Regions from separate parts of the Homo sapiens genome. Here region 2 is linked to region 1. The links come from fine-mapping of genetic effects on gene expression. A gene starts in region 1. The other region holds a variant in brackets. All regions are shown on one strand. Distances are from middle to middle.

Region 1 (12,325 bases):
TATTTTTAGTAGAAGCAGGGTTTCACCATGTCAGCCAGGCTGGTCTCGAACTCCTGACCTCAAGTGATCTGCCTGCCTTAGCCTCCCAAAGTGCTGGGATTACAGGCATGAGCCACAACGACCTGCCTGAAATTTTTTTTTATCCTAATTTTTTTTTTGATTTTTACTTTTTTTGAGTCTCACTCTGTCACCCAGGCTGGAGTACAGTGGCATGATCTTGGCTCACTGCAAGCTCTGCCTCCCAGGTTCACGCCATTCTCCTGCCTCAGCCTCCTGAGTAGATGGGACTACAGGCTCCTGCCACCATGCCCGGCTAATTTTATGTATTTTTAGTAGAGACGGGGTTTCACTGTGTTAGCCAGGATGGCCTCAATCTCCTGACCTCATGATCCTCCCACCTTGGCCTCCCAAAGTGCTGGAATTACAGGTATGAGCCACCGCGCCCGGCCCGGCCTGAAATATTTTTATATAAAATTATTTGATATCTGGGATTTGCTTCAAAATTATACTCAGTGTGGGGGTTGGGGAGTAGGTGGAAAGATAGTTGAAACAATATTTCTGTGAGTTGATAACTATTGAAGTTGTATGCTGGCTACTTGGGGGTTTATTATATTATTTTGTTTACATGTATATGTGTTTGACTTCCTGTTAGTAGCTTTTTTACCTCATTTCAGAGACGAGTTTCTTCATTTTGGACTGATCTTCAGCCAATACTCTAAGAATTTAGCTTTAAGTTTCCTGGAGAGCATTCTCCACCCACACTCCAAGTTTCTGCACAAAGGGTAAAGGATCTTAAGCTAATAAATGCAATAAGCTAATAAATGTTTGAGGAACAATATTTAAAGGTGTGCTTTTGACGTTTGAACAACACCAGCTATCAGGCAGATTTGCAATTCTGTGGACTTTTAAAAAAGCAGACTTGCTTATTTTCAATTCTTTTTGGAGAGTCATATCGTGGTAACTTACCACATGATAGGCATCATCTTACACACTTTACCATTTGCTATATCTTCTAAGCCTCACAGTAACTCTACATATTATTATCAGCCTCCATTTTACAGATGAAGAAATAGAGGTTCAGAGAGATTAATAATTCCTAACACTTGTTAACCACTTACTGTGTTTCGAGCACTGGGCTAATTGCTTTAAATGAATTTGCTTATTTTATTATCTCACACCCTTACAAGGTAGGCAATATTAATATTATTATTATTATTATTTTTGAGACGGAGTCTTGCTCTGTCCCCCAGGCTGGAGTGCAGTGGTGGGATCTCAGCTCACTGCAACCTCTGCCTCCCAGGTTCACACCATTCTCCTGCCTCAGCCTCCCAAGTAGCTGGGACTACAGGCGCCCGCCACCACGCCCGGCTAATTTTTTTGTTTGTTTGTTTGTTTTTTAGTAGAGACGGGGTTTCACCATGTTAGCCAGGACGGTCTCTATCTCCTGACCTCGTGATCTGCCTGCCTCGGCCTCCCAAAGTGCTGGGATTACAGGCGTGAGCCACTGCGCCTGGCCACATTATTATACCTCTTCTGTAGATGAGGAAATTGAGGTTTAGAGAGGCTAAGGAGCTTGCTGGCAGCTGCTAGAGCCAAGCATCCTCTCTGTGAGGCCCCAAAGCCCAGGCACTCACCACTCCACCCAGGATGCAGCCCAGAGCTTCAGGGCAAGCATTCCAGGCTCTGCTGTTTATTAGTCACAGTGCCTTGGGCAAATTAATTCACTTTCCCAAGCCTGGTTTCTAATCTGTGAAATGGGGATAAGACTAGCATCTCCCTAATATGGTAATTCTGGGGATTAAGTGAGACATTGGATTAAGGGGTTAGCATAGTGCCTGACCCATAGTTAGGCTCCCTTGATATAAGTGATTTTTATTACCCAGCTTCTTTCTGGGGTGGAGGGCTTCTTGATTAAAGTCGGATCATTTTAGGACTTTAGGAATCTTCTGGAAAAATTGGCCTTCCCATGACCATCTGGGTGATTTTATGTGGATACTGCTCTGGCTTTTTTCTGTGCGAAGAGGAGAGGGGTGCTTTACTTTTACTTTTACTTAGAGCTAGGGCAGGGTTTATTCTGGCATTTGGGAAGGAAAAGACTAAAATCAAGTGACGAAGAACCAGAGTTACTGTGTCAGTGTGAGTGCTGCCCTGGAGTTTCAGTCTTGCTTAGTGTCTGAAACTGGTTCCTGGTTCAGGCAAGAAGAGCTCTCAGGGACACCATATGCTACCCAGAGAGTGCCCTAGGTGTAGACACATGTAAATAAAAGAGTTGTTGACTGGCATGTGGTGGCTCACGCCTGTAATCCCAGCACTTTGGGAGGCCAAGGCAGGCGGATTACCTAAGGTCAGGAGTTTGAGACCAGCCTGGCTAACATGGTGAAACCCTGTTTCTACTAAAAATACAAAAAGTTAGCCAGGTGTGGTGGCGGGCGCCTGTAATCCCAGCTACTTGGGAGGCTGAGGCAGGAGAATCGCTTGAACCTGGGAGGCGGAGGTTGCAGTGAGCTAAGATGGCACCATTGCACTCCAGCTTGGGCAACAAGAGTGAAACTCTTCCTAAAAAAAAAAAAAAAAAAGAGTTGTTAATATACCTATTCATTTCACTGCCATGGTGTAGGGAAAAGAATGGGCTTTGGAGCCTTAGGGACCTCAGTTTGAATCCTGACTCTGCTACTCTTAGGCTGGGTACAAGTCACAAAGCTGTCTGTGCTTCATTTCCACAACTATGAGTTAGGAAAGATAACCAAGCTAACAGCTATAGAATGCTTACCATGTACTGGGCATTGTTCTTTTTATATATTAAATCATGTAATTTTTAAAAATTAATAAATACAAGGCCGGGCAAAATGGCTCACGCCTGTAATTCCAGCACTTTGGGAGGCCAAGGTGGGTGGATTACCTGAGGCCAGGAGTTTGAGACCAGCCTGGCCAACATGATGAAACCCCATCTCTACTAAAAATACAAAAATTAGCCTGGTGTGGCGGCACATGCCTGCAATCCCAGCTACTTGGGAGGCTGAGGCAGGAGAATCACTTGAACCTGGGAGGCAGAGGTTCCAGTGAGCTGAGATCACAGCACTGCACTCCAGCCTGGGTGGCAGACTGAGATCCTGTCTCAAAATAATAATAATAAATATTATTTTAAAAATCAGTTTAAGTTCACAGCCAAATTGAGCATAAAGTACAGAGATTTCCCATATGCCCCCTGCCCCGACACATGCACAGCCTTCCCCACGATCACACTCTTCACCAGAGTTGTACATTTGTTACAATCGATGAACCTACATTGACACATCAGTATCCCCCAAAGTCCATGGTTTACATTAGGATTCACTCTTGGTGTTGTACATTTTGTGGGTTTTGACAAACACATAATGACATGTATTCAACAGTGCGGTATCACACAGAAGAGTTTCACTGCCCTAAAAATCCTCTGTGCTTTGCATTTTCATCCCTCCCTCAACCTTAATCCATGGCACCACTAACCTTTTTATTGTCTCCATAGTTTTGCCTTTTGCAGAATGCCATATAGTTGGAATCATACAACATGTAGCCTTTTCAGATCAGCTTCTTTCACTTATTAATATACATTTAAGTTTCCTCCATGTCTTTTCATGGCTTGATAGCTCATTTCTTTTTTAGTGCCACATAATATGCCATTGTCTAGATATACCATAGGTTATTTGTCCATTTACCTACTGAAGTTCATCTTGGTTGCTTCCAAGTTTTGGCAATTATGAATAAAGTTGCTACAAACATCATGTGCAGGATTTTGTGTGGACATAAGTTTTCAATTCATTTGGATAAATACCAAGGAGTGGGATTGTTGGATTGTATGGTAAGAATATGTTTCATTTTCTAAGAAACCACCAAACTGTCTTTCAAAGTGGCTATACCATTTTGCTACCAGCAGAGAATGGGAGTTCCTGTTGCTCTACATTCTTGCTAGCATTTGGAGTTGTTGGCATTTCGGATTTTGGCCAAAATCCAAATTTAGGTAAATAAAGTAGTTTTACCTCATGGTCATCTTAATTTGCTATTCTCTTTTATTTTTTATTTATTATTATTTTTTGAGACGGAGTCTTGCTCTGTCACCCAGGCTGGAGTGCAGTGGTGCAATCTCGGCTCACTGCACCCTCTGCCTCCTGGGTTCAAGTGAATCTCCTGCCTCAGCCTCCTGAGTAGCTGGGACTACAGGTGCATGCCACCACACCAGGCTAATTTTTGTTCTTTTAGTAGAGACAGGGTTTCACCATGTAGGCCAGGATGGTCTGGATCTCTTGACCTCCTGATCCACCTGCCTCGGCCTCCCAAAGTGCTGGGATTACAGGCGTGAGCCACTGCACCTGGCTTTAATTTGCTATTCTCTAGTGACATACAATGTTGAGTATCTTTTCTTTTGCTTACTACTATCTGTATATCTTCTTTGGTAAGGTGTCTGATCAGGTTTTTTACCCATTTCTAAATTGGGTGGTTTTCTTATTGTTGAGTTTTTAAAACTCTTTGCATATTTTGGATAACAGTCCTTTATCAGATGTCTTTTGCATATTTTTAGTAGAGACGGGGTTTCACCATGTTAGCCAGGATGGTCTCGAGCTCCTGATCTCATGACACACCTGCCTCAGCCTCCCAAAGTGCTGGGATTACAGGCGTGAGCCACCGCACCTGGCTTTAATTTGCTATTCTCTAATGATATACAGTGTTGAATATCTTTTCTTTTGCTTACTGCTATCTGTATATCTTCTTTGGTAAGGTGTCTGATCAGGTTTTTTGCCCATTTCTAAATTGGGTGGTTCATTTTCTTATTGTTGAGTTTTTAAAACTCTGCGTATTTTGGATAACAATCCTTTATCAGATGTCTTTTGCATATATTTTATCCCAGTTGTGGCTTGTCTTCTCATTCTCTTGACAGTCTTTTGCAGAGCAGACATTTTTAATTTTAATGAAGCCCAGCTTATCAGCTCTTTCTTTTATGGTGCCTTTGGTGTTGTATCTAAAGAGTCATTGTGATACTCAAGGTCATCTAGGTTTTCTCCTATGTTATCCTCTAGGAGACAGTTTTATAGTTTTGTGTTTTACATTTAGGTATATAATCTATTCTGAGTTAATTTTTGTGAAGGGTATAAAGTCTGTGTCTAGACCCCCCCCTTTTTTTTTTTTTGCATGTGGATGTCCAGTTTGTTGAAAAGCCCCATGTGTTGAAAAGACTAAGCTTATATAATTTTCAAAACAAATTTTGAGGGAGGGAGTCACTGTTATTATCCCAATTTTTTGGATGAGCAAAGTGAAGCACAGAGAGGTGATTTATAAAAAATCACCCAGAGTAACACAGCTAGTACTTTACAGAACTGAGATTTTGAATCCAGGCAATCCAGCTCCAGAGTCCATGCACTCAACCCCTATCTATAATAATAATGTCTCCCTCATAGGTTCATTGTGAGGAGTAGAGATAGTGTCTAGTATATAATAGGTACTCAGGAAACACTAATGATAGTCGTTGTCCTACTTAGCCTGCAAGGTTCCGCTCAAATGTCATGTTTTTGGGGTTTTTTTTTTTTCTTTTTTGGAGACAGAGTCTTGCTCTGTCGCCCAGGCTGAAGTACAGTGGTGTAATCTCCGCTCACTGCAACCTCTGCTCCCCAGGTTCAAGAGATTCTCCTGCCTCAGCCTCCCAAGTAGCTGGGATTATAGACATGCACTACCACGCCTGGTTAATTTTTTGTATTTGTAGTAGTGATGGGGTTTCGCCATGTTGGCCAGGCTGGTCTTGAACGCTGGCCTCAAGTGATCTGCCCACCTCAGCCTCCCAAAGTGCTGGGATTACAGGCATAAGCCACCATGCCTGGCCTCAAATGTCATGTTTTTGAAGCTGCTCTTCTCACTCCTCAAGCCAAATAAGCCTCCCATCATAGCACCTATCTCATCATCCAAGTAATGCCAGCATGGTGAACCCTACTACTGTCACAGCTCAGGTCTACCTGTTCCCCATGTGATTTCCCTGGAGATATGCCATGTCTGATCTCCTTCTGTGTCACCCCAAGTGCCTGGGGCTGCACTTGGCACTTAGCAGGCAGTTTGTTAAATTGAATTTGAGTTGCATGTTATTCCAAAATGTGTATCCCGCCTGGGTCTATTCCTCAGGAACTCCCTAACTCTTACTCAACTCTCTGCTTTCTGAGCCTCCTTGCTCCAGCCTTCCCTGGTCTGTCAGGTTGGGCTGCCCTTGCCTGGAGAAGTTCCTGTTTGGGCTGTCTAGGGAGGTAGCAGCATTTGTCTGCTACACCCTTCTTCCTGCACCACCCCACTCAGTTTCTTCCACATTCTGGCACACCCCACTCCAGCATGGACACTGCCCAGGGAAGTGTCCCCATTTCTTTCTTTCTCCAAACTCTAGACATAGCACCTATCTTGGAGGCCTGGTATCTGGATGTCCCTTGGCCTCTCCCAGGAAGTATAAACTGTCTTCTTGGTGGGTACAGCAGCTCACTTGATATTTACAGCACACAGTGGACCCAGGGACAGACTGCATTCCAAAGAGCTTCTGAAAGTGTTAATCTTGGCATTGGTGAACTCCTTTAGGGAGTGAGTGGCACTTACAGCCATGGCTCCCGGGCCCTGGTACGCCTCTTGATCCACTCCATTTTGAGGCAGGGCTGTATCAGACCAAGCTATTGGGAGTCTGTTTTTACCTTGGGGAGTGCATTCTGGCAGTGCCATCTCGGACATGGCAGGCAGTACCTGGTCTGGACTGAGCCTGGGGCACCATCCAGCAGGGCCCTGTGTGTGCCTCTGCAGAGCCACCTTGGGAGGAGGCGGCCAGTAAGACTTAATTGCTTCCTTTAGACAGCACTACCTTGAACACAGCCTGCAGAGTTCGGTGCCTGCCTTGGACAGCCCCTCTTCTATACGTTCATCATGACCCTGGTGCCTGTCCTAGGCAGTGCCACTCAGCCCCTTTCGGACCCTTTTCGGACAGCCTCCAGTGCCCAGTGCAGACAGAAACTCCAGGCAGGGCCTCTCTCAGACACAGCGAGAGGGGCTTCGGAGTCCACAGCGGACGGAGGCTGCCAGGGCAGCGCCCGGCCCGCCTGGCCCACGTCTGGCGGCGCGCACTGGCGCTGCCAGGCAGGCCGGGCGTTTATCCCCACAGCCGCCAGCAGGGAGCTCCCTTTCGGCTCGGCCTGCGCGGTCGCTGGGGGCGGCGCTGAGCTGCGCCGCGCTGCGCTCTGCTCCATCCCTGACCGGGCCGAGGCTGCTGGATGCCGCGTCTCCGCTTCTGCTGCCTGCCGGGCGGGCTCCGGTGGCCGGTGAGTGCCGGTCGGCGGCGGCGGCCGCTCGGTGGCGGGCCCGGCTTGGTGGGGCGGCGGGGCGGGCTCCGGCCGGGAGGGAGGGCGGGCGGGCGGCGGGGCCCGCCGGCTCCTCCTCCTCCTCCCCCGTCCCCTGGAAGCAGCGGCCCGGACTCCCGGCTCCCGTCCCTGGCGGCGCCGTGGAGCTCGACGCCCGGGGGTGGGGGCCGATCGGGAGCGGCGGGGAAGGGGGAACCACCGGCCCTTCCAGCCAACCTGGGGGGCGCAGGGAGGCAGGACAGGGTGGCCTTCAGTGTGGGGGGATTTGGGGCTTGGAGGCGCCCAGGTGGCCCGGAGCTGCGGGGTGGGGGCTGCAGCCTCGAGGGTGGGGGGACTTCTCCTGCCCCCGTCCAGGCCCCACGATGGAGCGAGCGAGAGAGCGGGGCGCTGAGGAAGGCAGCGGGGAAGGGGAGCACCTCTACCGACCCTTTTATCCCTCCCAGCGGCCTTCACTCTTTCACTGCCGGGCAGACTGCGGGCTCCTCTCAAAGGAGCAGCTGCTAGACAGCTGGCAAAACAATGGAGACCCCGCTTCCCTGGGCCCCCTCCTCTTGGGACAGAAGATGAGAGGGTGAATGGTGGCAGGCTTTGGGGATTAGGGAGTGCAGGCTGTGCCCTGAGACTGAATGCTCACCTCACCTTTCCCTGCAGAGGGGTGGGGTGCGTGTGGGAAGGTCGGACAAGCTGCCCCAGGCCTCTGGAGAGACCGCCCCGACGCCCCGCCCTGCTAACCTGTCATGCCAGTTGTTTCGCCAATGGGAAGGGGAGGTGGTAGGGGTGGCTGCCCCCTCACCCTGCCCCTTGTTAGTGGGGGTGCGCTCCTTGGTCCCAAACCCGGCCAGGAGTGTGGGTCATGTTCCTGGGTGCGATAAGGCCCGCAGGGACAGGCCAGGCATTGGGGCTTTGTTTTGGGGGTGGAGATGGGGGAGTTGCCCTACTGCAAGGCACATGTGTCTTGCTGATTAGTTGGAAAGGTTGCGGCCAGAATGAGCTAGAGGTGGGGGGTGGGGGAGATGGGGAGGAAGACAGCCAGTTTGTTTTTGAGCGGGTATTCATTTTGCCTGACCACTTTGCCAATGGGGCATGTGTTTGGCGCTGGCCTCATAGTTTGTATTTGTGTGGGGAGGGCTGGGGGAATGCTTCCTGAGAGGGACTGTCCTGGCTAGGGCTTTCATTCCCTCAGATGGCCACCCCGAATTAAAGAATTGGATTCCCTCCCTGCTTCACCCTGCCAATGACTTGGGCTAGTTAGTGTGGGTTCGTCTTGTCTTTTGGAGCCCCTGGCGTGTCTGTGGCCGAGAAGGCCTCATCAGTGCCCCTGTGGCAAGTGAGCTCTGGGAAGTGTGTATGCACTGGGGTGTGCTGGAAGGGAGGGGAGGCCACCTGGGTGATTAAGAGCAAGATCACCTGAGCAGGACGGTGAGTACAGAGCCCATTGAATCAGCCGCCTTTCCCTTGTGCTTTGGAGCCCTTTTCTTGAGCAGGTTGGTGCCCTGTTGTTGTGGCAACAGGCCTGGCCTAATGTTCCCCACCCTTTTTAGTTCAGGGGCTACTTTCTATCTGGAGATATTGAAAGTTGCTCTCCTGAGGTCTCTGGCTTCCTGACAAGCCTCACTGGCTCTTTGTCCATGGCTTCCCACCTCCTCAGCTTCCTCTCTGTTTTTTTGTGATGAAGTCTTTCCAGGAAACATCCTCCTGGTTTCTGGATTTGACATGACGGGTTATATATAGCCTCGGGTGGAGGTGTGCTTGTCCATTTTGGGTTGAGGACATGGGGGTTGTGGCCTCAATTCCAGGAAAACCATGGCTTTGGGGGCAGCTATTGTGTTGAGGGATTAGGGGAATGAGAAGGGTTGTAGGTGGGGGTGGAGGGTGGGCATGGGAGGGGCCACAGGCTGGCGGTCACTTCCTTTGGGAGCTTTGAACTTTGAACAGTTGATGACCTGGTGCCTGGTAGCTCTGAGTGTCTAGTTTGTTTACTCTCTCCTGGCCTGGCCCAGGTGCCAGAGTGTGTGCCTGAGGGCTTCCTCCTGCGCCCCAGACTTTCCTCATGTGGGTTATGCCCTTCCTGACTCCCACCTGGTCTCTCAGCCTCACTCCTGGGCTGTCTGGGTAGCCAGCCAGTTCCCTGGAGGCCCCCTCACTGGCCCTGGTAGTGGCTATTCATTGAGGACTGCATGTGTCTTCAGAAACTGGGCCTGAAAACTCTGGGTCCCCCAGAGGCAGGTACCTAAAGGTGGACTGGGTGGGGCAGAACTGGGGCTCATGTGAAAGGGAGAATCCACCCTGCTGAGGTGGAGCTGGGAGTTGTTGGAACTCAGGAAGCCTTCATCTGGACTTGCTGTGTCACAGGTCTTCAGGGCAGCAGGGCTGTTCTTAATCCTTCAAACCAGAGGTCTCTCCTCAGCCAGATCCTCTCACCTGGGGTGGACGCCACAGGCAGGAGCCAGAGCATCCACGTGAGCTGGGTTTTGTTGGTGGCCTGGGGTCCCAGGCCTGAGTGTGGTGGGAAAACTGAGGGGCTCTGGCTGGTTGTAGTTTAAAGGTTTGGGGCAGTAGGAGGGCCCAGCCCACTGTCTGCTGTAATTGACAGGTTCCCACAGGACTTGGGATTGGTAGGGCAGCTTGATGGAGTTTAAGTTCTGCTTTGGGTCAGACCCCCGGGTGCTTTAAGATCTGCACACCCCACCCCATCACCATTTCTTCCCCCTAGCATTTTCCAAGGTGGCCTGAATTAGAGGAGTTGGGGAGGTGCCGAGGTAGGAGCTGGATTGGGAGGGGTGGTGAGCAGACCTGGTGAGCCTCCACTTCCCACCTTCACTTCCCTGCCCTTCTTTTGAGGTAGGAATTGCAGGGCTTGTAAAATGTCAATTTCCCTTGACATTTTAAACAGTTTAGAGTCAGGCAGCAGTTTTGGTTGTTAGACTGATGATTTTACAGGACCCAGGGCCCTTTCTGTCTGCCAAGTAGTTTATCATCACTTACAAGAGATTATTGTGATTATTCTCTAATATTCAGAGAGGTTGGATGATGGGCTGAAGGTCACACAGCAAGTCAGAGGCAGAGCGGGATTACAACCTGCAGTGTGTGGTTGAGCAGAATAGCTCTCCAGCAGAGGCTGAGGGCCAAATCTGAGCTGTCAGGCCCTTGAAGATAACTGTAGCTGAAATAGTGGAGGCTTAGAGAGGGGAGGGGACTTGCTCAAGGTCACACGGAAGGGGATGTTAGCGGAACTGAGCGCCAGGCGGTGCACCTGGAAGAGCAGCAGGGAACCTGGCGAGGCCGCAGGAGCTCTCCCGCTCGCGTTCCTCCATGGCCCGCGGGATTGCTGCCTTCCGGGGGAGATGGGATCGCAGCGGGAGGCGCCGCGGGGCTGCGGCTGCGCCGGCCCAGCCGCGGGGAAACGCCAAGGGCCGCCCGGCTCCCCGCGCGGCGGCGTGAGGGCTGGCTAATGTCACGTGAGAAGCGTGCAGTCGGCGTGAGGGAGCACACCTGGAGCCAGATAAGCTCCGTGTGACCTGGCAGGGAGTCACCCGGCGCTGCGGAGCTCAGCACAGCCGGCCGGGAGGAGGCTCCCCCTGGAGCACGGGGCCAGGCCAGGTGCTGGCTACCCCTCCGGCCGCTGCTACAACCCTTGGCGAGGGGCAGAGCGCGGGGAGAGAGCCGGGGTCCCGGGGCTGGAGGAAACGGCCGCTCAGGGAGGTCAGAGGCCAAGGGAGAGAGGCCGGCTCTCTCGGGAAAGTATTTCCTTTGTATTTATTTATGAGTGTGGTCTGGGGGTGGGGGTGGGAGGACTGACCTAAGTATCTATCCACCACAGCCAACTCTGGGCACCCTTGTCTTGGGACTCTAACGTTATAGTTTCCATTTCCTGGGTTTTTTTTTTCTTTTGCCAGCTGCTAGGTGACCCATTTAAATGTGTCCCCACTTACAGCCACAAGACACCAGTGAACTCTATTTTAACCAAGTCCCCCAAGCCACTGAAACTTTTTCAAGACATGAAGGCAATCCTTAAACTGACCATTACCCTGTTTGCAGCTTTACTGCTGGTGGATTGCCTACTAGTTTGTCCATTTTTTTTTAGTCTGGAAAAAAGTTGAATCATTAGGTAGAAAGCTAAAGCGTTACTAAAGTGTTACCCTTCTTCTCCCCTACTCTCCAGAGATGACCACTGATAAATTTTTGGATCGAATTTTTCCAGACTGCTGTTTTTTTTGAGAAGGAGTCTCGCTCTGTCACCCAGGCTGGAGTGCAGTGGCGCAATCTTGGCTCACTGCAACCTCCGCCTCCGGGGTTCAAGCAATTCTCTGCCTCAGCCTCCCGAGCAGCTGGGATTACAGGCGCCCGCCACCACGCCCGGCTACTTTTTTGTATTTTTAGTAGAGACAGGGTTTCACCATCTTGGCCAGGCTGGTCTTGAACTCCTGACCTCGTCATCCACCTGCCTCGGCCTCCCAAAGTGCTGGGATTACAGGTGTGAGCCACTGCGCCTGGCCAGACTGCTTTTTAAAAGCTTGTTATATATATTTTAGGCACTATATATGTTTATAGTTTAATATATGTTTTATAAAATATCATCTTATATAAATATTTAAAAAATTTCTGTAGTAGGCCGGACACAGTGGTTCACACCTGTAATCCCAGGACTTTGGGAGGCTGAGATAGGCAGATTGCTTGAGCCCAGGAATTTGAGACCAGGCTGGGCAACATGGCAAGACCCTGTCTCTACAAAAAATACAGAAGTTAGCTGGGTGTGGTGGCGAGTGCCTGTAGTCCCAGCTACTCAGGAGGCTGCGGTGGGAAGGATCGCTTGAGTCCCAGGAGGTTGAGGCTGCAGTGAGCCGAGATCGCACCACACTCTAGCCTGGAGGACACAGTGGGACCCTGTCTCAAAAAAAAAAAAAAAAAAGATGAAATAAAAGTAGAAGAAAAATGATAGATAATTCCACTCCCTGAAGCTCCTAGGTGTAAGCAAATAC
Region 2 (12,325 bases), 42 kb after region 1:
GGGTTTCACCATGTTGGCCAGGCTGGTCTCGAGCTCCTGACCTCAGGTGGTCCGCCCACCTCGGCCTCCCAAAGTGCTGAGATTACTGGCGTGAGCCACTACGCCTGCCTGGCCCCTCTTTGCCTTCTCTTACACTACTTCTTCACCCTGGAATTCCCTTCCTACCTCATTGCCACATTATAACATTTCTCTCTTTCATTGGCCTAGCTCCAAGCTGTCTGTAAGCTGTCTACTTAATACCGTAACTGGAACAGATCTTTGCCTCTGAACTTCCCTAGACTGTTATTGACGTCCCTGACTTGAATTTTAATTATTGGGGTACATTTGTTATCTCCTCTGCTGATCTGTACATTTTTTTAAATCAGGAAGTATTTAGTTGAAAACAAGAACTAAATTATCTTCTTTCACTCAGTCACTCAAACGTGCCTCATATTGTCTCTGAGCAGGGCCCAGTGCTAGGTGAGTGCTGGGGATAGAGCAATGAACAACACACAACCTCTGCCTCAGGAAGCTCAGTCTGTGGTGGGGAAGCTGAAAAAGAAGCAGGCACGGTGCTTCCCCACAGTGTTCGCCTTGAGGTATTACAGTTCACAGCTAGTTGAATAAGTGAACGACTTCCTCCAGCCCTCAGAGCCTCCTGTCTGGCCTTCCCCCAGCTCTGCTTAGCCACTCTGCCTGGTCAAGTGCCTGAAACAGAGCCAAGGACCTTCCACTCATCCACGCCACCAATGTGGGAGAGCAGAGCAGTTGAAGTTGTCACCACACATGGAGATCCCCTTGTTCCCCACTCTATTCCAGCCCGTTTATTGTGCGTGCACCGTTCAGATCAGTTGGTTAAATCCATATGGATTTTCGTGGAACACCTTTTGTGTGCCTAGTGCTGGGGAACGGGATGGGATATAAAGGAAGTAGGAAATGGTCCCAGCTCTCCAGGGAGAGCAGGCTTAAACATTCAACACGAATCGATTATCATTCAGAACATTAGTTATGCTGTATAGTCATGGCACGTGGACAGTAAACTTCAATAAGTTCAACTATATGGTTGTGAAAGAAACTATATTACTGTAGCCTAAAATTATAAAAATAATATTTTGTGTGTTTTTACTATATGCTGTACATGACTATTATGCTTTCCTGCAGCTATATTATACCAAATGGCATACTCAAAATCATGTGTACTATACTTTGTGAGCAGTTTAAGGGATTTTCAGGAGTTTTGGACTATATTCTATTTTTGCCTTACGTGCTGACTTTGGAATCTAACCCCACATAGTGTGTGACTCCACTGTATATAATAGAGCACCATATTGAGTATAACCAAGAACCGTATGTATGTAATGTGTTCAGGTGTGGACAGTGAGTGCTATGGTTTATGATAATAATGATATTAATAATTTAATAACTATAATTTGCCAGGCCGCACATCAGTTGCTTTACATGTACTGCCTTTTCTATTCTTATAACAGCCTCATAAGGTGGATATCATACTATTTTAAGGCCAAAAAGGTAGAAACTCTAAGAAGTCAAGTAACTTTCCCTTAGGTCAGACAGCAAGAAAGAGGCTGGGATTCAGACCCAGGTGTGTCTGGCTGCCAAGCCCACGTTCTTTGCATTGCCGGGTGGGTCTTGGGTTTCAGGGAAGGCTTCATAAGGGAGGCAGGAGTTGAGATGGGCCTGGAGAGATGGAGAGGGTCAGCCAAGGTAGAGACACATTCGTAAGGAATGGCTCTGGTGGTGACAAGGGCAGGCAAATGACGGAGAGCCAGGCTGGCTGGGAAGAGGGAGAAGAGACTAGAAAAGTGAAAGTAAAGTCTGAGGAGGGGCCAGATTATAGCTTCCAGCTGTCCTTGGAGGCAAGCTGAGGGGCTTGGGGTGGCCTGGCTGGCTGTGGGAGTGTCCACATGGCCTCTGGAGCCATCAGTTAGACTCATCAAAGAAATGGACCATGCCCTGATATTGCACCACCACGCTTTGGGCAGCAGAGGGACTAGCTGTAGTTGCATGTGAAGCTGAGTGGAGACAGGCACACTGACAGACGAGTGACAGCTGATGGCCTAATGAGGTAGGGGACAAAAGAATTAAAAAGCAGACATATGGCCACAAAGGGCATCTGGCCTTCCTAATATAGGCATATGCAAGGCTTCAGCATGGTGGTGCCTAAGAGGGGCTGGTGCCCTTGGAGAGAGGCTGGGGCATTGGTGGGGCAGAAGCCAGGCTGCTGTAGCCAGGCCAGGAAGTCAGGAGTCATCATGGTGGAGATGGCGTGCCCTTCAGTACAGGATGGAGCAGAAATGGATTGGGTTCAAGAAGGAAAGCTCAGAGTGTGAGATCTTTGAGATGAATTAGGAGTGTTGTACTTAAGGAAGCAGGGTATATATGTTGGTTATTTTTAGGATTATAAATAGTATAGAATTTAGAAAATGACTTAAATCTTTTATCCCTTAAAAAGGGTAGGCTCCAGTTACCTGGAAATTTTGCTTACAATGCCTCATTTTTTCCCCCGCTTATGATCATAGGTAGATAATAATAGTTAAAATGTATTAAGGCCAAATGTGGTGGCTCATGCCTGTAATCCCAGCACTTTGGGAGGCTGAGGCAGGTGGATTGCTTGAGTGCAGGAGTTTGAGACCAGCCTGGGCAACATAGGGAAGCCCCATCTGTGCAAAAAAAAAAAAAAAAAAAACCTACATGGTGGCACGGTGGTGCATGCCTGTGATCCCAGCTACTACGGAGGCTGAGGTGGGAGGATGGGCTGAGCCCAGGAGATGGAGATTTCAGGGAACCAAGATAGTGCCACTGCACTCCAGCCTGGGCAAAAGAGCTTTTGTTTGTTTGTTTTGTTTTAAGTATTGAAAATGAATGTGCTGGACACCGTTCTCAGAGCTATGTATGAACTAATTCTTTTAACCCATGTAATAACCCCATGTGGTAGGTGCTATTATTTTCCCATTTTACAAATGAAGAAATTGAAGCACAGAGGCTGGGCATGGTGACTCACGCCTGTAATCCCAGCACTTTGGGAGGCCAAGGCGGGCAGATCACTTGCGGTCAGGAGTTCAAGGCCAGCCTGGCCAAAATGGTGAAACCCCGTCTCCACTAAAAATACAAAAATTAGCTGGGCGTGGTGGCGCCTGCCTGTAATCCCAGCTACACAGGAGCCTGAGGCACAAGAATCGCTTGAACCTGGGAGGCGGAGGTTGCAGTGAGCCGAGATGGAGCCACTGTACTCCAGCCGATAGAGTGAGTGAGACTCTATTTCAAAAAATAAAATACAAATGAAAAGAAGTTGAAACACAGAGAGATCAAGTTGTGTAGTTTACTTCATGCAAGAGCCAAGATTAAACCAGGCCGTGTGGCCCTGGAGGTCATACTCCTAACCATGGTATGCTGTGAATCATTCCTTTCAAGCCGTGCTTCTCAGACTTTAATGTGCCTCAGCATCACCTGGAAGCCTAGTTAAAACACAGATGCTGCACCCCATATCCAGAGTTCTTGGTTCAGCAGGTCTGGGTTGGGTTCCTGGAATTTGCATTTCCAACAAGTCCCCAGGGGATGCCCACGCTGCTGGCCTGAGAACTTGGAGAACCAAAGCCCTTTCACATACATTATGTACCAGTCTCATACTGGTTGGGTAAGAGTCAGTAAAGGTGTAATCCTCATTTTACAGATAAGGGAAATTTAAGTCACCTGCCTGTGTTCACACAGCTAAATCATTCATTCATTCACTCATTCATTTAACAAATGGACATTTCTGTGCTAGGCCTTATGCTGGCCTTAGAGTCTTGCAGTTCTCAGCCTTGGCTGCATGTGAGAATCACCTGGGGAGCTTTTATCAATAAAAAATCCCAGTGTCCAGCCAGGCGCAGTGGCTCACGCCTGTAATTCCAGCACTCTGGGAGGCCAAGGCGGGCGGATCACGAGGTCAGGAGATTGAGACCACGGTGAAACCCCGTCTCTACTAAAAATACAAAAAATTAGCCGGGCATGGTGGCAGGCGCCTGTAGTCCCAGCTACTCGGGAGGCTGAGGCAGGAGAATGGCGTGAACCCGGGAGGCGGAGCTTGCAGTGAGCCGAGATCACGCCACTGCACTCCAGCCTGGGCGACAGAGCGAGACTCCGTCTCAAAAAAAAACAAAAACAAAAAAATCCCAGTGCCCAGGCCCCTGCTCCCAGACCAATTATGTCAGAAACTGAGAGGGAAAGGGTGGGCTCCAGGCATCAGTATTTTTTTCAAGTTCCCCAGTGGATTTCAGTGAGCAGCTGAGGCTGGCACCATTGTTCTAAGTAGCCACTGAAGATGTGAAGACCTGTGACACTGCACGTGCTTCAGAAGGGCCAGATGCTTCCCCTGGGGGGACATCCCACTCCCTAGAGAGCAGGACACAAGCGCCGTGTCCTAAGAGTCTGTGTATGTGACTATATGACAGTGAGACTTGGACAGCGCATGGCAGGTAGGAGGCAGGGCTGGGTTTCCATCCTCTCTGGCAGTGCTTACCAATCTTTTCATGGAGAAAGTCAGACAATGTATAGAACCAATGGCCCTTAGAGCTGGCCAGGGGCAAGAAGCATGGGGTGTATGCCAGACTGGTTAGGAGGCGGTTCTGTATCAGGGCTTCCTAGCACCACCCCCACCCCATTTTTTTTTTTTCCTAAAGAGGAAGAGGGAGGCAATGACTGTTTCCTTTTTTCTGCAGAGCTGACGGCTTCTGAGACTTGCTCTCCCTGTCTTTTGGCCCCTTGACATTCTGTTCTCCAGCTCCCATTTCAGCGTCTCAGCGGGTCCCTAGTCCTGGTCTAGGCATCCCATGGTGCTAACTGGAGAGCCAGGCCAGGATTTCTCTTCACAAGAAACACTGGCTTTTCACAGGCAGCCATCACTCATTGGCTAGACACCCATGACTTCCTCTGTCTGCAGGGCTGAGGCCCACCCCACCCTCCTCTCTGCCTGTGCAGTCCCTGGCGTCTGTGGAGGGGAGAGGGATGTAAACAAAGAGAGTGTAATTGATTCTCTGCATGTCCCCTGTGTGCTGATGGCAGTGGGGCAGTAAGTGGGCCTGCCCGTGTGGGTCTCTGCTCCTGCCAGACCTTACAGGACTGCTTTGCGGCTGCTGTTTGGGCACAGTGTGCAGTGGGCCCCGTGTGCTGTCTTGGATGTGACGTTAGTGGCTGTCTTGGCCTCTGCCGCAGTAATTAGATGGCTAGGGTAGGCCTATGATTTGGGTGTTCTCAAGAACACTGTGTTGATTGAATGTTCGTGCATGCTGGTGTGTGTGTGTGTGTGTGTATACGTGTACATGCACATGAGTGCGCATGTGCTTGTCTCAAGCTTGGCCTGTGGGGCCGGGGGCTGCAGGTCTCAAATTCCTCTGCTATTTTTAGGAGCCATATCAGCCCAGCTGTCCCGGAGCTGGGGTGTGTGTCCATAGGCAAGTCTCACCCTCCCTGTCCTTGCCCTAACCCCCTAACACTGCCTGCCCCCCACCCCAATGGCTTTACCCTAAGAGCCTTCTCCTTCCCTTCCACACACACTGCTGTATCACCCTCTCCCTCCTGGCATACCTGATACCCGAAGTCCTCCGGGCTGCTGGCTCCAACTAGGGCTGGGCAGCTCGGGACGGGAGGGGCCGGGGAGAGGGCGGGAACTGGGCGGGGCCACAGCCTGTGCTATTTTGAGCTGCTAACGGAGCCAGAGCAGCATCAGAGCGGAGTCTCCTTGCTCTGGGC[T/C]GCTCCAGGCCAGGCCATGCGGGTGAGTGTCCCTCTGACCCCCCACCCCGGAAATGTCCCAGGCTCCTCATGCTATTTCCTCATTTAGGAAAGGAGGGACCTTTTTGTGATTTCCCCAGATGTGGCTGAAGTAGGTGGGGAGAGGGGTGGGGCAGCCTTGGGGCTCCTCTCCGAGCTTCTTGGTAAGAAGGGAGTTACTCAGCCCCGGAAGCCTCAAAACCCCTCCGTGGCTAGGAGCAGGGCATCCTGGGCCTGACTCATGACTTCAGGAGTTTTGGAGGGGCACTGTCTTCTGAACCTCAGTTTCCTGGGGTTGCATCCACCCCCAAGGCTGTGACACGCCTTCCCCACCAACCATTAGTGCTTTTTTGGCCTTCATTCCTTAGAACACTGTTTTCTTCCAAAGCCCCAGCCCCACAGCACCCAAGGTCCTCGGTAGTCTTGTCTCTGCTTTGTTGCTGGTATAGCTCTTTCCTCTCTTCCTCCTTGAGAGGGGATGGTCCTTGGAGTTGTCAGGGAGCACCCTTCTCGCTGTCCCCAAGAGTAGTCTTAGCATGGCCACCTCCATTTCTGTGCATAGGACACTTGCAAGGGGCACAGATGGCGTGTTGGGGATGCTCTGACTGGCCCTAAGTCTCTTTTTTAGTAGAGATTACTCCAGATAAGTAAGTTCCTTAAAAAAGAAAGTGAGGAGAGACATAGCTGCTCCCAGTCCTTCCCGTTCCCCTGACTCTACCCCTCCCAGCCACCAAGGGTAAGGTTTTCAGTTGTGTCAGCAGTTGGCAGAGTACGTGGGCTGGCCTGGTGCGGAGGTGCATCAGGAGCCTGAGATGTACCCGTGAGTACTTGTATCTCTCTGTGCTCAGGACTGCCCTGCCTCAGCCCCCAAACTGGCACCAGGGCTGAGTTGTGTGGGCAGTATGCCCGGGGGTGGGGGAGAGGTCAGAGAGAGCTCCTCACCCTGAGAGATGGGCGCTTCCTGGTCTAGGGTACTCTCCCCCAGCCACCCCCGGGCCACTAGCACCAGGTCACAGATTTAGGGCCATGCACAGTGATATCCAAGCAGACAGCAAAGTGCCCTCCAGAGGGGCAGTGAGCATCCCCAGGGAAGGGGGGCCTCCAGCAGGTTCAGTCGTTGGAGGAGGAAACCAAGACCCTTCTGCAACTGCAGTTGCGGCAGGAAGCCATTCCAGTGCACCTGCTTCCTCTGGGCTGGCCTGCAGTGAGGCGGGTGCCCGGCTGCTTTCTGTTCCGCCCTGGGGCTGGGGAGGGCTCTGGCTGGAGGCTGGACTGCAAGGGCCAGGTTGTCCCTGCCAAGCTCATCTCCCCCTCCCCCGCTGTCTGGCAGCATGGCCTTCAGTTCATTCCTTAGAGAGCTTCCCTTCCTCTCAAGCAGTTCCACGTAAAGCATATTCAGGTTGGTGGGTGGAGGGGCGGGTCATCATTGGGAACCCCTGCTTTCCTCCCAAGCTGCTCTTCTGGCAGCTGATGTAGAAGGACAACAGTGCAGGTGAACCAGGGGAAATGGAGGGCAGGGCGTGCCTCCATCCCTTAAAGTGAGCAGTGGAGGGCTCTCGCAGGAGACCTGAGTGTGAGTCCCAGATCTGCCACTTGCTGCTGTGAGGCTTTGGGCGAGTCACCTGACCTTCTGAGCCTCCTTTTGCTCATTTGTAAAGTAGCAGTCACACAGTCACACTAGTATCTATTTCAGAGGGATGTTGTGAGGATCAAATGAGATGATTCATGTGAGGGATTCAGCACAGCACCTGACACATACCAAATGCTCAATAATGATTAACCGTTTTTTACTATTATGCTAGTATTTCTTCCCTTCTCCTTTGTTCCTGCCACCCTTCCTCGCCCTCAATCCCTAGATAAGTTGGTGCTAGGTTGGGACTGGGAGGAAGAAGTCTCCTGGGAGCTGCCCTCTGTGCCTCTGAATGGGAAAGAGGGAGGAGAGGAGAATGCCCTGCCTCTTGGTCCTCAGAAGGAGAAGCCTCCGGTGTGTGAGTGCTGTCAGAAGCGGCGAGGCGGGAAAGTGACCTCGGCCACCAGCTACGTCTCAGCTTCCTTTGGGCACTCTCTTGAGAGTTACCTGCTGCTCTCGGGGGCTTGCAGTGTGCAGATGTCTGGTGTGGATGCTTGGGCCTCAAAGCATTTGTCCAGGCCAGGCATTCCAGGCCTGAGGGGCTGCCTGAGGCGTGGCATTATTCTCCCAGGAGCATTTGTGCCCCCATTCCCTCCTGTGAGGGGCCCAGAGAGTGCAGGTTAAGGGCGGGTAGGCTCTGCTGGCATGGTGGAGGGTAAACCCCAGCTGCTCCCAGAGTGTCAGAAGCCTCCTGGGGCTGAGGCTTGACAGTCCCTCAGTACATTTCTTGGATTTCTCCTCTTTGAGAACAAATGCTTCTAGCTATTATCTCCTTTGCTTTTTTTTTGACTATTTAGCCATCTTCACAATAAAAATAAGCAGTAAGTAACAAATACATACCAAAATAAATACCAGGTGTTCATGTTGTGTCTAATTCACACAGTTTACAAGATTATTATGATCACTGTTTGTATACTATTTGGGTTCCAGTTTTTTTGATTGATGTCATTTTATATGGAGCTTTCCATATGGTTACATTGTCCACACATTTGTCAGTTTAAATGGCAATACAACAACGGGTTGTACCTAACCATTTCTTAATTCTAGGCATTTGGGCTCTTTCCAATTTGGAGCTGTTATATAGAGTGCATCTATAAAAATCTTTGCGTTTTTTTTCTTTTTCTTTCTTTAAGTCAGCTCACTGGACATACATTCCTGAAGATGGAATGGGTAGGCCAGAGGATGATGCATTTTGTGGCTATTGTTCACGAAGAGCTACTAAGCAATTTCAGTGTCCTTGCCCTCCCTGCAAACCCAGGCATTGAGTTCACTATGTATTTATTGTGAGCAGGTTTAGAGATTATACCTCCCTTGTTTGTACCATGTCCCTGGGAATCAGAATGGGCAAGTGTTGTTCTCTGTAGTTTATATTTGGGGAAGAGATTAGATGGGAATAAGAGGTTTGTGCAAAGAACCCCTGTCCCAGCACTCTCGTGCAGCTAACATTTATTAAGCGCCTACAGTATGATGAGTAAGATGGGTAAGTTCTGCTCAGAGGTGAATCACAGTCCAGGGATGACAAAGACGCACAAACAGCTCCCCAAGATACATTCTGGTTGTGGCTCCCAGCTCTGCCACTTAATAGTTGCAGCGCTCTCGGCAATTCACCTTCTTTATTTCCTTATCTAGAAAGTGTGTTGTTATGAGGATTCAATGAGGAGACCTGTATGAAGTGCCTTCCCCTGTGCCTGGCTCATAGTAAGTGTTCAGTGAGTTTTGGTCTCTCTTGCTGTCCCTCAGAAGTGCCACAGAGGGAGGAGGTGGGTAGACCTGCAGAGTGGCAGAATCATGGTGGGGTCTCCCTTTTTGCACATCCAAAAACTCGATTTGGAGAGTTGCACACTAGTAAAACACACTATCAATCCATGCTTTGGCTTGACCAGATCTTCTGAACCTTCACGCCGATGAAGTTTATCAACCAGATTTGGCTACCAAAGCTGATGCCTGCCTAACATACCAGAAAAGGTGGGCACTGAGGAAGCAGCACAGGCTTTGGAGGCAGACCAGTGTGGGTTCAAGTCTGGGTTCCCCCACTTAACTAACTTTGTGACTTAATCTCTTTCTGAATCTTTTCCCTCCTCGATAAAATGGGAATAATAATAATTCCCATATCACCAATCCTCAGATTGTTGTAAGATTTACATTAGAAAATAAATGTTCAATATCTTGTATAGGGCCCATCTCATTGTAGGTGCTCCATATTCAGTAATGTTGCTGGAAATGGCTGAAATCTCTAGAGAGAGAACAAGTCAAGGAAGAGAGGCCTTAGATCTAAACACCCTTGCTCCAGAGAGCCATATGTTCCCAACACATATGCTGCCACCACCTTTGGGGCCTGAGTTCCTTACCCATTCTGTCTTGGATAACAGTAACTTGATCTTTTTTTTTTTTAATTTTTGTGGGTACATGGTAGGTTTATGTACTTATGGGATACATTACATATATATATATATATATATATATTTTTTTTTTTTTTTTCTTTTGAGATGGGGTCTCACTCGGTCACCCAGGCTGGAGCATGCAGTATTGCGATCTCTGCTCACTACAACCTCTGCCTCCCAGGCTCAAGCGATCCTCCCACCTCAGCCTCCCCAGTACCTGGGACCACAGGCATGCACCATCGTTCCCAGTTAATTTTTTGTGTTTTTGGTAGAGACAAGGATTCATCGTGTTGCCCAGGCTGGTCTCAAACTCCTGAGCTCAAGTAATCCACCCACCTCAGCCTCCCAAAGTTCTGGGATTACAGGCGTGAGCCACCACGCCCGGTCCATGAGATGTTTTGTTTTGATATGGGCATGCATTGAGAAACAAGCATGTGCTTGGGCAATGGACAATGGGGTCTCTACCCCCTCAAGCATTTATCCTTTGGGTTATAAACAATCCAGTTCCAGGATAACTTGCTCTTGATCCTAAACAAATTCAGTGATAAGGGAGAGAGGAAAACTGTCTAGGCAATTCTGCATAAAAGCCACAGAGAGAATTTCCTCTGGGGAGAGCCCCACATCTGTGTTCAGAGTGAAGCTCATAGGAACAGCTGATGCAGAGGAACAGGCCTGGGTGGAAATGGCCCGGTGTCCTCACAGCCTGGGCCAGATGGGACCTCTATAGACAAGTAGGAAAACTTGAACAAGAGATCAAAGATCAAACGAGTTAAAATTACACCAACAGACAAACTTAAAGTCTCTAGCACATTAACTGAATAATAAAACAGAAGTCAACAAAGCAAAATAGAAATAATTAATTGAAAACAAAACATTTCCTAATTTTTAACTATTATTCATGATAAGCAGTTTTAAGAATGAACCAGTTCTTGGCCGGGCGCGGTGGCTCACCTCTGTAATCCCAGCACTTTGGGAGGCCAAGGCGGGTGGATCACGAGGTCAGGAGATGAAGACCATCCTGGCTCACACGGTGAAACCCTGCCTCTACTAAAAAAATACAAAAAATTAGCTGGGCATGGTGGTGGACACCTGTAGTCCCAGCTACTCGGGAGGCTGAGGCAGGAGAATGGCGTGAACCCGGGAGGCGGAGGTTGCAGTGAGGCAAGATTGCACCACTGTACTCCAGCCTGGGTGATAGAGTGAGATGAGACTCTGTCTCAATTAAAAAAAAAAAAAGAACCAGTTATTAAACTCCACTGAAGTGCCCTGATTCTTTGGATGCAGCCTCTCCCTGGACTGAGGCAGATTCTGACTTGATTTTTCAAGCGGCCCAGCTCTGGTTTCTAATCCATAGATGGACAGTTTTGCAGTTCTCCGGGCCTCTTGCCCCACGTAATTGTGTGTTACAGCTGGAAGGCAAAGTCGCTGGGGTCCTGAGGCAGATTCCTCAATTCCTCTCCTAGGTCACAGGCCTGCAACTTTGGTTTACTGTATTAAGGGTTTGAGTGTTGGCTGGGCGTGGTGGCTCACACCTGTAATCCCAGCGCTTTGGGAAGCTGAGGCAGGTGGGTCACCTGAGGTCAGGAGTTCGAGACCAGCCTGACTAACATGGAGAAACCCCGTCTCTACTAAAAATACAGAAATTAGCCGGGCGTGGTAGCGGGCGCCTGTAATCCCAGCTACCTGGGAGGCTGAGGCAGGAGAATCGCTTGAGTCCGGGAGGTGGAGGTTGCAGTGAGCCGAGATCACGCCATTGTACTCCAGCCTGGGCAACAAGAGTGAAACTCCGACTCAATAAATAAATAAATAAATAGAGTTTGAGTGCCTCTCCCCACGTAGACTCCTAAGGTGCCAGACATGGAGAGGCCTTGAGCCATTGTCTAGACTAGCCCCTAATTCTACAGAGAGGCCCAAAGAGGCGAAGTGGCTTATTCAAAGCACACAGCTTCTGGCCGGGCACGTCAGCTCACACCTGTAATCCCAGCACTTTAGGACGCCAAGGCGGGTGGATCACCTGAGGTCAAGAGTTCGAGACTAGTCTGGCCAACATGGTGAACCCCCATCTCTACTAAAAAGTACAAAAATTAGCTGGGCGTGTTGGTGCCGGGGAGGCTGAGGCAGGAGAATCACTTGAACCCGGGAGGCAGAGGCTGCAGTGAGCCGAGATGGCACCATTGCACTTCAGCCTGGCCTACAGAGTGAGACTGCATCTCAAAAAATAAAAATAAAAAAATAAAAACAATGCACACAGCTTCCAAGGGTAGGGAGTGCTATGTTCTGTGCCTACTTTCCTTCATTTTCCTTTAATATTTTATTCCTTACTCCAATGCCCTCTTGAGTTTTGTAATCCTTCCTCCTCCACTCCATCCCTCCTTTCCCCTTGTTGCCCACAGTGTTTATCCTGGCAGGTTCTGGCCTTTGGGAAGACTCAGAGACACTGAGAGACCCTGCCCCCCATTTCTTCTCTGACCCAGGGCACAGGTTACCTTCAGCGCCATGGCCTTTTCATCAAGGTTCGCCTTCTGGGAGCAAAAGGAAAGTTGGATTTTAAAATCTTTATGTTTTTCCTGTG

The links.
Region 2: its variant is fine-mapped to the expression of MYO18A in whole blood (INTERVAL, PIP 0.99).

The regions. Positions count from the first base shown.
Region 1 is chr17:29,175,295-29,187,619 of GRCh38, reverse strand. It overlaps MYO18A (myosin XVIIIA), which reads left to right and starts at 7,222. Exons shown (of 42, transcript NM_078471.4): 1 at 7,222-7,307. RefSeq lists silencers at 7,143-7,363, 7,329-7,378, 7,499-7,548, 10,550-10,749.
Region 2 is chr17:29,133,761-29,146,085 of GRCh38, reverse strand. The region is part of intron 2 of MYO18A (myosin XVIIIA); the gene reads left to right. LOC124903967 (a long non-coding RNA gene) reads right to left here and starts at 5,612. Exons shown (of 3, transcript XR_007065693.1): 1 at 5,560-5,612. RefSeq lists enhancers at 5,168-5,217, 5,368-5,457, 6,658-6,707, 6,400-7,383, 7,384-8,367 and a silencer at 5,918-5,967. The variant T/C (reference allele first, on the strand shown) is at 5,725.